Linked DNA regions of Homo sapiens: region 1 is linked to region 2. A link means that fine-mapping ties the variant in region 2 to the expression of a gene that starts in the linked region. Tissue or cell type: skin. Region 2 holds a variant in brackets; the other region holds the start of a gene. All regions are shown on one strand. Distances are from middle to middle.

Region 1 (8,101 bases), 40 kb after region 2:
ATACATAGAAGGCCCTTTAACAAAGCCCTTTAAACACTTTAGTTCTGATCATCTCTTCCTCATATTTACATCAATGCCATCATGTATTTTAATTGTTTTTAACACAACAAGAAATTGTTACGTTTTATTAAGTCACTATTTGTTTAGATTTAACCATTTCCATGCATCATCACATCTTCTCATATTTTCAGACTTTCTATTTGGGAAAATTTTCATTTTACCTGAGGTATATCTTTTAGAATTTCCTTTTCTAAGAGTGTATTGGTAGCAAACTGTCATTTTTAATTTGTCTAAAAATGTCTTCTTTACATCTTTGTTTCTGAAACATTTTTGCTGCATATAAAACTATGGGACCACAGTTACTTTCTTTCAGCCTATTGACAATATCATTCTACTTTTGCCTAGCTTCCATGGTTGCTGTTGAGAAGCTGGCCCCCATTCATTTTGCTGTACTTCATTTCAAGGTAGTCTTTTTTTTTTTTGGTTGCTTTTAAGAATTCCCTCTGCCTTAGGCCGGGTGCGGTGGCTCATGCAGTGGTAATCCCAGCACTTTGGGAGGCCGAGGCAGGTGGATCACCTGAGGTCAGGAGTTCAGAGACCAGCCCAGCCAACACGGTGAAACCCCATCTCTACTAAAAATACAAAATTAGCCAGGCATGGTGACGCATGCCTGTAATCCCAGCTACTCCGGAGGCTGAGGCAGGAGAATCGCTTAGAACCTGGGAGGCAGAGGTTTCAGGCAGCCAAGATTGCTCCACTGCACTCCAGCCAGAGCAAGAGAGCGAGACTCTCTCAAAAAAAAAAAAAAAAAAAGAAAAGAAAAGAAAAAGAAGAAAAGAAAGAAAAGAAACGAAACTATGGCCAGGCACGGTGGCTCACGCCTGTAATCTCAGTGCCAAGGTTTAACAACTTACTTTGCAATCATCTGAAGGTCAGACCTTACTTTCAGTTCACCCTTACACAGAATGTTACCCTTTGAACTCTCTGCTTCATGGGATTGGGTTAGGGAGCTTCTTAGACTTTCCATCTTAGGCTCTGAGATGTGTGTTCCATTTTGCAGGTCCCTTGAATCATAAACACCAAAGATGAATGTTTGGCCAATGCCCTCAAAGTTGGCTTCAGAACTCTATCACTTTCGAGTTTCCTCTTTCGCTTAAGTTTTGGGGCTCCAAGTATTCTTTACTAAAATACATTTCAAATGCATTTATGTGCAGGGTTTTCCAGCATTTTCAGTTGTTTCATCAGGGCACCTACTTGAGCTTACTGTTAAATGACAGACACCTGAAATGTCTGAGAAGAGAAACAGGCTCAAGAACAATTTGAATAAGTTCTACAACGACAGATTCATGTTATTTAAGGCATAGTTTGGGATTGTGGTGGACTTTTTTTTTTTTTTTTTTTTTGAGACAGAGTCTTGCTCTGTCACCCAGGCTGGAGTGCAATAGCACGATCTCAGCTCACTGCAACCTCCACCTCCCAGGTTCAAGCGATTATTCTGCCTCAGCCTCCCGAGTAGCTGGGTCTACAGGCACCCGCCACCACGCCCGGCTAATTTTTGTATTTTTAGTAGAGACCGGGTTTCACCACATTGGCCAGACTAGTCTTGAACTCCTGACCTCGTGATCCGCCCTCCTCGGCCTCCTAAAGTGCTGGGATTACAGGCATGAGCCACTGCGCCTGGCCTGTGGTGGACCTTTAAGGCTTCTTCCTAACAAGGTCTACTGACGACATGTAGGTAATTGTGGAGTGACCTGGCAGGAAGAACTGTGGCAGAATCCTCTCGCCGGACTCTAACACTAACTAGATCTTGTGGAAAAGCCAAGTCTTTGACTGGCTCAGCCTAGCTTATAGGAGTCAGATGAGGTTAATATTGTAAACATTTGTGTCTTGTCTTCCCAATTCAACTGTTAACTTCCTTGAAAGCAAATACTGTGTTCTCTAAGTCTCCCAATCTCTCCGTTCTTAGTTCTTAACGCACTTTCTACAAGAATCAAATATAGCGCACCCTGCTCATGGTCAAATTTTCCCCACAGAATTTCCTTAGCCCTCCATTCTCACAAAGATCTAACATGATTCTCGAAGTGTTTCTAGACCAAGGAACACTTCATTAAAAGTCAATTCAATTCCAGCTGCCCCTTCCGTTGCAAACCCTCTGGTGTTGTTAAATTAACCACTACTTTGAAACAGTATGGGAACAGTATGAGAATGTCGGAGCTGGAAGGAAACTTAAAGCCTTGGAGATCATCTAGCAACTACTCCAACACTCTCGATTTACAGTTAAGAAAACGAAAGAGACCCAGAGAAGCGAACACAGTTGCCTAAAATCACCCAAATGGACAGCTGAAAGCTTCGTGACTCCACAAATAGGATTTTCCTCACACCAAACTCCGTATCTTGACATTCCCAGAATGGGGATGGTCGGTGGGCTGGGAGGGGGGTGTTGGGGGGGGGGTGAAGGAGAGAGTTTGGGCAGCTCTACAAACAAAATGCAGCAACTGCACTGTAGATAACATCCGTCCCCAAGGAGAAGCAGCCCAGGCTGACTTCAACCTGTGGCTGCAACCCCCAGACAGAAATCTGCAGCACTGGAAAAACCGACAACACATCGGACCGAAGAGGAGGTGGTCGCAGAGAGGCAAGTCCTGGGGTCTCCCGGGCAGCGGGAGAGCTCACTCGTAGCGACGGAGACCGTTTCCAATCTGGAAACACTCCAACCTGGGAACGGGCTCTTTTGGCACGAAAGAGAAAATGTGTGGGCAGGGTCACAAATCCACCAACCTAAAGCAAGCGTCAGAGAAGTTTCTGGGCAAGGGCGCACGGCGCCGAGGCTCCGACCCCGCTGCAGAAGGAAGCGGAGGGAAAAAAGGGCAGAGCACTGGGGTCGCGAAGAGGAGGGTCCGCGTTCACCCGCGCCAACGGCAGCCCCGGGAAACCAAGACCCCGGCGGCGTCCAAACCGCGAAGCCCCGCCCCCGGCAGGGGACTCCGCCATCCCCAACGCGCCCTCGAGCCAGCGCGCCGGTGCCTCTTTACCCGAGCAGGCGCCGACTCCGCCATGGCTCCAGTCGCCCCTCAACACCCAGACCCCGCCTCGGAGCCCCCGTGCTGCGTTCCTGTCCGCTCGGCGCCCCAGAGCCTGTTGGAAGCCGCCGCCGCCGCCGCCGTGTTGATGCCAGGTGCATTCTGGGAGCAGCGACCTCCCCGGCACAAGACCGGCTCCAGCCGCTCTTCCTCACTGTGCAGGCTTCCCATTGTGCCCCCGTGCGGCGGGAGGGAGAACGCTGCTTGGCACTCCCGGCCAGAGTGCGGGCACCAGGAGGGCTCAGTCACTCAAAAGTCAAGACCAGGTTCCGCGTTTCAGGCAAAGCCACGGGATCCTGCTGTCTTCCGTATGCCCAGCACTCTGCTAAATGCTTTGAGGGATTCAAAAATGTGTACAACTCAGACTTTTTGCTGAGGAAAGAACATGTAATGTTGTTGGGGAAAAGAAATATGGTTCCAAAAGGCAAGTGATTTTATTCCAAAAGTTCACCTGTTATTTGGCTTTTTAGAAACTGGGAACAGTTTCCATATCAACAGTGTGGAGCGTGGGGTCAGGCCCAGGCCAGCCCTCTGTAGCCTGTTAATTATGGTAATCATGTGCCTTGGAAAGTCCAAGACAACCCTGATTTCAAATATTTCCAGTCCTCATGCTACATGTAAGACGATGTGTCTGGAATTTTTGTTGGAAAGCACGGCCACATGACCATTTAATCGCCATGTACTTAATCCCCAATACCAGCAACACTACGGCAACCATAGCTGCCTAATTTATACCATTGTCTCTCTGGAGACAAGCAATGAACTTCCACTTCACAGGATAGGCGTGAAGTGTTTCCTCTGAGAACGAAACTTTTTTTTTTTGAGATGGAGTTTCGCTCTTGTTGCCCAGGCTGGAGTGCAATGGCGCAATCTCGGCTCACTGCAACCTCCACCTCCCGGGCTCAAGCGATTCTTCTGCCTCAGCCTCCCTAGTAGCTGGGATTACAGGCATGTGCCACCACGCCTGGCTAATTTTGTATTTTTAGTAGAGACGGGGTTTCCCCATGTTGGTCAGGCTGGTCTCAAACTCCCGACCTCAGGTGATCCGCCCACCTCAGCCTCCCAAAGCGCCGGGATTACAGGTGTGAGCCACCCCACCCGGCGGAGAACGAAACTTTTAAGATCATGACTGGCTCCTTCCTCACATGCAGGGCTCAGTTCAGATTCTACATCCTCAGAGAGATATCCCCAGTCCCCCCTTTCTACAGCCCCACACCATCCTCCATCTCAATACTCAATCTCGTTACCCTGCTGGAAATTTTTCATACCATTTATCACCATCTGAAGTAATCTCTCTTTTTCACTCATTTACATATTAATTATCTGTATCTCTTCCACTGAAATGTCTGTCTACTGTATCCTCCATTTGTTGTACACAGAAGTGTTCATATTTGTAAATGATTGAATGGTGAATCAGAGTGTAAGGATATGAAATGTCATCTCAAACAGAGGCATTATTTCCAGGGCAACTAGATCAACGGGCACGTCACTGAATCATTAATAAATCTAGAGAAAGAATGGGCCAGGCTGAAGAAACCGGTCAGTCAGGGAGATCCTGTCCAGAGGGTCTGACCTAATCTCTCAGACCAACAAACTCTTGGTGTCAGATACAGAAAAAAAAAAAAATGTGTCATGGGTGAGGTGGCTCATGCCTGTAATCCTAGCACTTTGGGAGGGCAAGGCAGGAGGATCACTGGAGTTTGAGACCAACCTGAGCAAATAGGCAGACCCTGTCTCTACAAAATTAAAATTAAAATTAAAATGAGCCAGGAGTAGTGGTGCACACCTGTAGTCTCAGCTACTCAAGAGGTTGAGGTGGAAGAATCATTTGAACCCAGTAGTTCAAGGCTGCAGTGAATCACGATCGCACCACTGCACTCCAGCGTAGGCAACAGACCAAGATCTTGTCTTTAAAAATAAAATAAAAATGTTATCCTCCACAGGCACAATATCAGGACATAGGATGCTGAGGTCATTAAACAGTTCGGTCGTAGAACTCATTCCCTCTATTCTATTTCTATACTCACAAGGCAACCTTCTGACGTTGCATGTTGCCAGGTAGCTTCTGGGAGGCAACATGCAGGTGAAGCTGATGCACATGTATACCTCAGTCTCTTGAAAATGAGCATGTTTCAGCATCCCAGACTCTGAGCCTGGAAGTCTGGAAAAAGGTTCAGATCAAATTTCCAGCCTGCAAAGGAGGCAGCACCAGGCACCAGGGTTGCAATCACGTGGGCTGGTGGAGATGGTGTGGCGCCTGCAGTCCCCCGGGCTGATGAAGACAGTGTGGCACAGTGATTTGCTAAGTGGGGCTGGGGAGTGAGACCGTCTGGGTCCCTAGCCCAGCACTGCCAGTATATTAGGTTTCTCTAGACAGACTAATAGGATATATATATAATGTTATATAAAGGGGAGTTTATTAAGTATTAACTCACATGCTCACAAGGCTCCACAATAGGCTATCTGGAAGCTGAGGAGCAAGGAGAGCCAGTCTGCGTCCCAAAACTGAAGAACCTAGAGTCTGATGTTCGTTGATGTTCGAGGGTGGGAAGGGTCCAGCATGGGAGAAAGAAGTAGGCTGGGAGGCTAGGCCAGTCTAGTCTTTTCACATTTTTCTGCCTACTTTATATTCTAGCTGTGCTGGCAGCTGATTAGATTGTGCCCACCAGATTGAGGGTGGGTCTGCCTTTCCCAGCCTACTGACTCAAATGTTAATCTCCTTTGGCAACACCCTCACAGACACACCCAGGATCAATACTTTACATCCTTCAATGCGATCAAGTTGATTCAGTATTCACCATCACAGCCACTTACTAGATGTGAAACTTGGTCAGGTCTTTAACTTCTTAGTACTTGTTTCCTCATGATTATTGGTGAATAGATAACAGTACTTAGCTCATAGAGTTGTGTGAATTAAATGAGTGAATTCAAGTCAAGTGCTTAGAACAGTACCTGGCACAGAGGAAGAGCTCAAGAAGTACTCATGATCATTATTGTTGTTTAGTCCCAGATCCTTCATTTACTAAGTGCTGTGGCTCATGCTCACTCTGCCCTAGTGTCCTTGTCTTCCACTGAGAATGTGAACACCTCATCCTAAGGTTGCTGATGGAACTAAAAGAAAGAATTTATGTAAAGTGCTTATGTAGCCAAGTGCCCGGCATACAGCAAGCACTTGATAACAGGCAATTTCTTCTCTCTGCTTTACTTTTGCAAGGTCCAAGCCTTGTATTGCAATGAGTTCAGCAGGATAAATGTGGCTTTGTTGTGTCTCTTAGAAACTACCCATTTGTTTTTTCCAACTGACATTCAAATCTTGACATATGCTGTTTTAAAAAACGTTGTTGGCCGGGTGTGGTGGCTTACGCCTGTAATCCCAGCACTTTGGGAGGCCAAGGCAGGCGGATCACAAGGTCAGGAGATCGAGACCATCCTGGCTAACATGGTGAAACCCTGTCTCCACTAAAAATACAAAAAATTAGCCAGGTGTGGTGGCGGGCGCCTGTAGTCCCAGCTACTCCAGAGGCTGAGGCAGGAGAATGGTGTGAACCTGGGAGGCAGAGCTTGCAGTGAGCGAGATTGCACCACTGCACTCCAGCCTAAGCCACAGAGCGAGACTCCATCTCAAAAAAAATTGTTGTTGTTTTTTGTTTTTTGTTTTGAGACAGAATCTCGCTCTCTTGCCGAGGCTGGAGTGCAGTGGAGAAATCTTGGCTCACTGCAACCTCCGCCTCCCAGGTCCAAGCGATTCTCCTGCCTCAGCCTCCCAAGTAGCCGGCATTACAGGTGTGTGCCACCACGCCAAGCTAACTTTTGTATTTTTAGTAGAGAGGGGGTTTCATCATGTTGGCCAGGCTGGTCTCGAACTCCTGACCTCAAGTGATCCACCCGCCTCGGCCTCCCAAAGTGCTGGGATTACAGGTATGAGCCACTGCGCCCAGTCCGTTTTAAAAAACTTTTTTTTTCCTCTTTTTTTTTGAGACAGAGTCTCTCTCTGTCACCCAGGCTGGAGTGCAGTGTCGTGATCTCCGCTCACTGCAAGCTCCACCTCCCAGGTTCACGCCATTCTCCTGCCTCAGCCTTTTGAGTAACTGGGACTACAGGCACCCGCCACCACGCCCAGCTAATTTTTTTTTTTTTTTTTTTTTTTTGTATTTTTAGTAGAGACAGGGTTTCACTGTGTTAGCCAGGATGGTCTCAATTTCCTGACTTCGTGATCCGCCCGCCTCAGCTTCCCAAAGTGCTGGGATTACAGGCATGAGCCACCACACCCGGCTTAAAAAACTTTTAAATGAAGTTCACAGTTATTCCCATTAGTAGCATTGGTATTCCAAGAATCAAGAAAATAGACATTTAGTACTTGTAGCCTGGCATCTCTACATTTGTAGAATATGAATGCAACATGCAGAGCTGAAAATGACCTTAGACATCATCTCACCCCAGACCCTCATTTTTAGTGAAAGAAAAAAGTATTCTTTGAACAAACAAATAATATACATTGTTAAAATAATGTTTTAATAATATTTATCTTGGCCAGGTGCAGTGGCTCATGCCTGTAATCCCAGCACTTTGGAAGGCTGAGGTGGGAGGATTGCTTGAAGCCAGGAGTTGGAGACCAGCCTGGGCAACATAATGGGACTCCATCTCTACAAAAAAAAAAAAAAAAATAGCTAGGCATGGTGGCACACGCCTGCAGTCCCAGCTACTCGGGAGGCTGAGGTAGGAGGATCACTTGAGCCCAGGAGGTCGAGGTTGCAGTGAGCTGTGATCACGTCACTGCATTCCAGCCTGAGTGACAGAATAAAGCCCTGTTTCACACACACAAAAATTATCTTATCCTTTAAATTTGTATCATGTGTATGATTTATAGCATACATATTAGCCTATATAAGTACATATATGTATGCCTGTTTTTTTCTCAAAAAAGTTTATAATCCATGGCTTTATTCCACTCGTTAAGACTCTTTCTGTCTCACTGCCATTACTATCTTGCAAGTCCCTAGATGGCATGAACCATTTCTTTT
Region 2 (8,091 bases):
GAGATTGTACCATTGCACTCCAGCCTGGGCAACAAGAGTGAAACTCCATCTTAAAAAAACAACAACAACAACAAAAAAAAAACCAAAAGACCCACAGGCTGGTGGACGTAGCTCCCCTTTCAGCTCTGCGAGCCTCACATGGAAAAGCCGACTCTTTCCGACTTTGCAAAAGGCAAAGTTCCATTAACAACTACACACATTTACAAAAGTATTTCAAAGTCTCTATAAGAAGGGAAAAAAATTTCAAAATAGCAAAGTAGAAAACTTTCCAGGGCCCTTTCTTCAAGTCAGGCCATCCATCCACTCCACTCCACTGTTTCTCATGGTGACAGCAGGCAGGAGATCTCTGCACAAAACAAAAATCCCAGGTCCCCGATGTCTCTATCGCCCCCATACTGGAAGGGCCATGATCTCTGGTCCTCTTGGCTGTGGTACCTACCAGAGGCCTTATCAAAAATATGGCATCCCTTAAGCCTTAAGGCATCTTTTAGAAGTCAGGAATGCAGAAAAGGCAGCGAAGAGTGCAAACAGGAAACAGAAAGCACCCGGTCACACACAATGTCACCAGAAGGGCAGCTAGCTTCCCATTTGAATGGGTAAAAACAACAAACCTCTCTCCATCCCAGGAAAAGGAAGAACCTGCGTCAGGCACAGGGGAGAGACCCCGCCAGGGGTCCTCTGTGGGCTCCTGCCAGGTCAGCCCTCCTCCTTCCGGCTGGGCCAGGGCAGGGGCAGGCTCCCGTGGCGGGCGGGGGCGGCAGGGAAGTGTGGGCCCACCTGGCCTCGGGCGTGGGTCTGCATGTGCACGGCCAGGTGGTGGTTGCGGTTGAAGGTCCGGCCACACTGGGGGCACTGGTAGGGCCGCTCACCGGTGTGGATGCGCTGGTGCCGGAAGAGGTCCGAGGGCCGGCGGAAGGCCTTGCCGCAGTAGGGGCAGGCGGGCCAGCCCTGGCCATTGCCGGTGTGCAGGCGCTGGTGCAGCAGCAGGCTCTTGCGCTGCTGGAAGAAGCGCAGGCACTCGCTGCAGTGGTACATCTTGCTGGCTGCAGGCCGCCGCCCCACCAAGGCACGGCCCCCTGCCACGGAGCGGCGACCCTCAGGCTCCTCGGGGAGCCAGCGGATGACAGGGCCGGGTACCACCACCTCCCCCGGCTCCAGCATGGCCTGGCTGTCCCCGCAGCTGGTGGGCGAGCGGCCGGGGGCCTCCTGCCGCCCCTCCTCCACATGGGTCCGCTGATGAATCGTCAGATTGATCTTCAGGCGGAAGCTCTGCCCGCAGTCGGGGCAGGGGAATGCCCGCTGCCGCCTGCGGGAGAGGACTCGGGGCGTCTCCCCACTGGCCCCCGGTGGCCGTGGCTCCCCTGCCCGCACCCTGGGCATGCCCTGGGCCTGATGACGGCTGGGGCCCCCAGGCCTGTTCCTGGGCCCTCGGGGGATTCTACACTCGGTCTGGCCTCGGGACACCCCCAGAAAGAGCCGCTCAGGCGTCATCTCGTCTTCAGACTGTGCCTCTGTCTTGATGGCCACACCACCACCTGGCAAAGGAGTCTATGTTGGTTTCCAAGTGGACCTCACCACCCTGTCCCCCAGGTCACTCGGCCCAGTCCTGGCTTCCAGCCTCAGCCCGGGCCCTATCTCCCCACAGTGCTCACAGCACATTGCAGGGGTCCTGCTCACTGAGCCCTGCCACACAGGCACTGCCTTGCACGGTCACTCAGTCCTGATTGTTGTCATCTGCCTCATTCCTGGAGGCCAAGCTAAGGACATCAGGGGAGGGGAGATCAAACTGCAAGGCCAGGAGCCAGGGAGCCCAGAGGTCAGGGGTCAGCTGGAGTGGGACACAGAAGCAGAGACCCTGGGCACAGCAGAGAGGGTGGCAGGACCCCACCCCCAAGAGTTCTGGTGACATTAGTTACCATCTGTGAAAGACAATGAACCCCAGGGGCCCTGCATGCCCCCAGACCACCCTAAGAGGCCTCTGTGGACTAGAGGTGGTGAGTGCTGCACCCATGCTCAGCTGCTCATCCACATGACAAATCCACACAGAGCGTCCACGACCTGTCTGCCACTACACTCACTGGTGACAGAGAGGAGGCACTGGGACCTGAGATTCCTGCCTGGGTCTGTGTGAGTCTCACTCAACTCCCAGGTTGGGTGGAGGCAAGGAGCTGCTGGGACAGCAGTGACAAGGACAACCAAGGCAGTGGCAGGTGATCACAGCAATGTGCTGGAGACGTGAGACCCCAGGTCTCAGCACCCAGCTCTCAGGGGTCCCTAATGTGAGGGAGGGTCCTGGCACCCTGCCCTCTCAGGGAAGCACAGACTCTAGGCAGAGGGACACAGACTGTGGACACGGAGGGGCTGGGAGCCCAGCCACGCCAAGACCACGTGAACAGCTTTTCCATCATCATCGGACCACATGCCTGGGATCTGATGCCTGGGTTTTCATGCAGTGCCTTTCCAGCCAGGCCAGACCAGACCACGATGGGGAAAGACCAGGAAGGACCCCAGACTGATCTGGGTCCCCACAGTCCCCAGGGAGATAGAAGCTGGAGAGGGAGGGAGAGAACCCTCAGGAGGAAGCCCCTCACCAGGTCCCACCACCCAACCCCAACCCCACCCCACTCCCAAAAGGCCCCCACACTCCTGTGGGGCTCTGCTGCGGCCACAGGTGCCTCCGCCCTTCTTCCCCAGGCCCCATGCCTGGCAGGATGTCCCTGGTGGGGAAGGTTGGAGACTCCCCATCTAAAGACTCTCCTTCTGGCTTAATCAAAGATAAAATGCTGGTGCTCCGGGAGGTGAGGGGCGCCTCTGCCCGGCCACCCCTACTGGGAAGTGAGGAGCTCCTCTGCCCGGCCAGCCGCCCCGTCCGGGAGGGAGGTGGGGGGGTCAGCCCCCCGCCCGGCCAGCCGCCCTGTCCGGGAGGGAGGTGGGGGGGTCAGCCCCCCGCCCGGCCAGCCGCCCCGTCCGGGAGGTGAGGGGCGCCTCTGCCCGGCCACCCCTACTAGGAAGTGAGGAGCCCCTCTGCCCAGCCACCATCTCGTCTGGGAGGTGTACCCAACAGCTCATTGAGAACGGGCCGGGATGACAATGGCGGTTTTGTGGAATAGAAAGGGGGGAAAGGTGGGGAAAAGATTGAGAAATCGGATGGTTGCCGTGTCTGTGTAGAAAGAAGTAGACATGGGAGACTTTTCATTTTGTTCTGTACTAAGATAAATTCTTCTGCCTTGGGTTCCTGTTGATCGGTGACCTTACCCCCAACCCTGTGCTCTCTGAAACATGTGCTGTGTCCACTTCCCCACTTCCCTCCACTATTGTCCTATGACCCTGCCAAATCCCCCTCTGCGAGAAACACCCAAGAATGATCAATAAAAAAAAAAAAATTAAAAAAAAAAAAAAAAAAAAAA[C/AC]AAAGATAAAATGCTGGTGCTAGCTGGCGGCCACGTGAGAAAGACTCGGCGAGGGCCTCTCCCAACACCGGCTGCTGGACACCCGCGGCTTGCAGCGTGCACAGCCATCTCCCCAGCAGCCCTGGACGTGCGCAAGTCCCTGTCAGGGAAAGGAGGCCTAGGGCTTCTGTCCCGAGGGCTTCAGAGGTGAGACAAGAGCTACGAAGGCCATGTCCCCAACACTCCTGCAGGCCAGTGCTAATGACTTGTCCCTCAGCATCTGTCACCCTGATGAGCCTGAAAAGAACAGAGGGTTGGGAGGCTCCCGGACACCGTTCCAGGTCTGCAATGGGGCAGGAACATTGCCTTCCCACCTAAGAGGGTCCCATCTCTCCAACTCCATGAGCAGAGCCCAGACTTACACACTGGCTGGAAAGAGAAACCCAGGGAAGGGAGGATGATCCAGTGGGGAAGATACCCAGAAATCACCACAGGGAAAGCAACCAGAGACTGAAAGTCGGGCCAGCGGCAGGACCAGGTGGAGGAGCCAGCCCCGCAGAGGAACACTAGACAGAGAACAGAGCTCTGGACTGTTTGCAAGTGTTCCGCTAAATGCCCTGATATACACTTTTGTGAAAGGACAGGCAGGGACTGCCTTTAAATAAAAGCAGACAAAGAAGTCTGGAAGGATGACTAAAGCCAGAGTTCCCAGTAGGTCTTCAGAAAGAGGGCGTTTACTGAGAAACACCATGCTGGCGCCGCGCTAGGCACAGGACACACACTGCCCCGTGGATGGGACCCTCGTAAAGACCCTGGGCAGGCACAACACACCCATCTACCCCCTCCCCTCACTCCACCGGACCCATGTGCCCAGGCCCCCAACACGCAGAGGAACCCACCCCTCTATACAGACTGTTTTCTCACGCTGAAAATGCCAAAACCTACCTTCTTTTAGGCCTGTCTCAGGGGCCTCTTTCCCAGAAAGCCTGTCCGGCCCAGCCCAACCAGTCTCCCAGCCCTCTCTCCCAGCCCCATGCTTCCAGGGCTTTTCCTCAGCACCATCGCTTGGTGATCGCGTGCTGCCTCGGGACACTGTTCATCCTGCCGCCTCACTGTCCTCACTCACCTGCTTCTGGCCCGGCTGGGGCCACTCTCGCCTCTGAGTCCTGCTGCTGCTTGGGGGCCTGCCCTTCTTTCAGCTCCTCCTGGGCAGGGCTAAGTGGGCTGGTGAGGTGCTCTGGATACGGAGGGAGGCCTGGAGAATGTAAATCAGTGACATTGAGCACAACATGGAGGTCTCCTGCCCAGATGACCAGGGACCCTCTGGGGAAAGGCAGAGTCACTGCGATCCTGGGGCCTCAGCTCCAGCACAGGGCATGATAGTGAGGTGGACCCCACCAAATACCTGGCAGCTAGATTCCAGTCTAAAGCCTCATGTCCCACAGAAGGAAACTGCAGCACAGGAATTCAGCAGACAGGAAATCACGGTAATGATCGCCAGGCAGGTCATGACAGAATCTGGCATTTTAAGGCAGGAAAGAGAAACACCATGCCTGTCCCACCAGCCAGTGGGGTGGTCACCACCTCCCGCAGTCGGGCCTCCTCCTCCTCCTCCAAGCTGCTCTTATGGCATAGGGGACCCAAGGCAGGGCAGAAACACAACTGAAGATATGGCGTTAGGAGCGTCAAGGTTTTCCCCTCAGAAGTTGTCTTTCAAGATAACTCCATCCCTACGCCTACTTCTTAGAACCCGTGTCTATATACATGTTTAATCAGTGCCCGCCTCCCAGAGTGATCGTAACCAACCCAGCTGTTAGCAAGACTTTCAAATGGTAAAGCCCCGAAATGAGCACTTGTCCTCTCACACAAGAAATCAAACTCTGATTTTTTTTTTTGAATTTTTTTTTTTTTTTTTGAGGCGGAGTCTCGCTCTGTTGCCCAGGCTGGAGTGCAGTGGCGCAATCCTGGCTCACTGCAAACTCCGACTCCCAGGTTCAAGCAATTCTCTGCCTCAGCCTCCCAAGTAGTAGGGATTACAGACGCCCATTACCATGCCCGGCTAATTTTTGTATTTTTTAAGTAGAGACGGGGTTCCACCATCTTGGCCAGGCTGGTCTTGAACTCCTGACCTTGTGATCCACCCTCTTGGCCTCCCAAAGTGCTGGGATTACAGGAGTGAGCCACTGTGCCTGGCCAAAGCTCTGATTTTTTAAGCAAAAAAAGATGATAAGAAAAAAACTATGATGAGCAAAAGGCTGACAGTGAGAGTTGACAGAATGCTACCATCAGAGATGAAATCAGCAAATGGCTCACATCATTTGTCCACTTGATGCTAAGAGGAATTTGAAATTGGATGGGCATCAGATCAGAAGGGAACAGACAAGAAACCCAGAATCATGGAAAAAGTGGCTCTACCTCCAAACCTGGGTTGGAATTTACCACGCTGGATCTTCCTAAACTTAAGCATCCAGAGAACAATGCCTTGTCAGAGATAAAAGAACAACCAGACCGGGCGCGGTGGCTCACGCCTGTAATCCCAGCACTTTGGGAGGCCAAGGCAGGCGGATCACAAGGTCAGGAGATCAAGACCATCCTGGCTAACATGGTGAAACCCCGTCTCTACTAAAAATACAAAAAATTAGCTGGGCGTGGTGGCAGGCACCTGTAGTCCCAGCTACTTGGGAGGCTGAGGCAGGAGAATGGCATGAACCCGGGAGGCGGAGCTTGCAGTGAGCCGAGATCGCGCCACTGCACTCCAGCCTGGGCGACAGAGCAAGACTCCATCTCAAAAAAAAAAATAAATAAATAACCACCAAACGCCGAGTATGGTGGCACATGACTGCAGTCCCTGCTAGTTGGGAGGCTGAGGCAGGAGGATGGCTTGAGCCCAGGAGTATGAGGCTGCAGTGAGCCATGATTGTGCCAGTTGCATTCCAACCTGGGCAACGGGGCCAGACCCTGTCTCAAATAAATAAATAAATAAATAAATAAATAAATAAAAAGTAACCCAAGTGGGGTCCTGTCCACTCTACCTCAACTGAGGTTCTCTTCTAACAGAAGAGGTAAAACCAGCTAGAAGGTTATCAAAAGGTAAAATAGTGATGAAAAGTAATAATCCAATTGAGTCTGTGCCTGCTAACACTGCTACCGATTCCCCTTTACGTACGGGAGAGTTATAAACCAACGGGTTACACTGCCCCTAAAAATGTTGCTTTCATGACAAGCCTAAAGACGGTTGCTTCATCAGCAGATCCTAAAAATTTCAGTGGATCATCCTCTGAAGTTTCATCTTTGGATCCTTCCTACAACAAAGAAAAACACATCATCCATCCTACTAAACAGCCCCAAGCATCACAAGGTGGTGACTGAGCAGGATGAAGCCTCAAAAAAGAATGAGAAACAGAACAGTCTAAGTGAAAATATGAATCCTGACTGTTCGTGAGCCACTAAGAATTGAAAATAAGGCCGGGCGTAGTGGCTCATGCCTGTAATCCCAACACTTTGGGAGGCCAAGATGGGAGAACTGCTTGAGCTCAGGAGTTTGAGACCAGTATAGGCAACATGGTGAAACCCTGCCTCTACAAAAAAATACAAAAATGAGCTGGGTGTGGTGGCATACGCCTGTAGTTCCAGCTACTCAGGGGGCTGAGGTGGGAGGATCACCTGAGCCCGGGAAGTTGAGGCTGCAGTAAGCTATGATTGCACGACTCCAGTCTGAGTGACAGAGCAAGACCCTGCCAAAAAAAATTATGAATAATTTTTTAAATATTGGGAGGAAGAGCCAGATTCCACTGCAGTTGGATTTGGGGGACAGCACTGGCAAAGGGGCAGCACCCCCAGGATCAAGCAGCCTGCAAGTCAGCAGTGCTCCTAGTTGGGGCAGTCCTAGGCCTCTCCAAAAATGCCACTTCCATCAGTTCCATCAGGTGAAGACTCCACGCAGCTCCTTGGCCTCCAGTGCCCCCAGATGAATAAAGGGAAGCACAGGCCAAGAAGGCAACCTCATTGAAGATGATTTTGAAAGAACGGCAGGAGAGGGCCAGGCGCAGTGGCTCATGCCTGTAATCCCAGCACTTTGGGAGGCCCAGGCGGGCGGATCACAAGGTCAGGAAATCGAGACCATCCTGGCTAACACAGTGAAACCCCGTCTCTACTTAAAAAAAAACACAAAAAATTAGCCGGGCGTGGTCATGGGTGCCTGTAGTCCCAGCTACTCGGGAGGCTGAGGCAGGAGAATGGCGTGAACCCGGGAGGCGCAGCTTGCAGTGAGCCAAGATCGCGCCACTGCACTCCAGCCTAGGCAACAGAGCGAAACTCCGTCTAAAAAAAAAAAAAAGAAAGAAAAACCTAAAGCCTCCATCAAAAAAACCTATTAGAACTGATAAATTCAGCAAAGTCGCAGCATACGGAATCAATATACAAAATCAGTAGCCTTTTTATATGCCAACAGTGAACAATCTGAAAAAGAAATCAAGAAAATAATCCCATTTACAATAGCTATAAATAAAATAAAATACCTAGGAAAAAACTTAACAAAGGAAGTAAAAGATGTCTAGAATGAAAATTATGAAACATTAATGCAAGAAATTGAAGAGGACACCAAAAAATGGAAAGATATTCCATGTTCATAGATTGGAAGAATGAATTAGTTATAATGTCCACAGTACACAAAGCAATCTACAGACTCAATGCAATTCCTATCAAA

What was found. PIP is the estimated chance that this variant, and not a neighbour inherited with it, causes the effect.
Region 1: it holds the start of ZNF212, and the variant in region 2 is fine-mapped to the expression of ZNF212 in skin (TwinsUK, PIP 0.95).

What each region holds. Positions count from the first base shown.
Region 1 is chr7:149,234,734-149,242,834 of GRCh38, reverse strand. It overlaps ZNF212 (zinc finger protein 212), which reads right to left and starts at 3,184. Exons shown (of 5, transcript NM_012256.4): 1 at 3,033-3,184. The coding sequence starts at 3,056. RefSeq lists an enhancer at 3,123-3,417.
Region 2 is chr7:149,274,949-149,283,039 of GRCh38, reverse strand. ZNF783 (zinc finger protein 783) reads right to left here. Exons shown (of 6, transcript NM_001195220.2): 5 at 4,513-4,641; 6 at 1-1,535. The coding sequence ends at 697. Among named protein-coding and RNA genes, the nearest start is that of ZNF783, 17 kb to the right of the region's middle. RefSeq lists an enhancer at 1,071-1,607. The variant C/AC (reference allele first, on the strand shown) is at 3,408.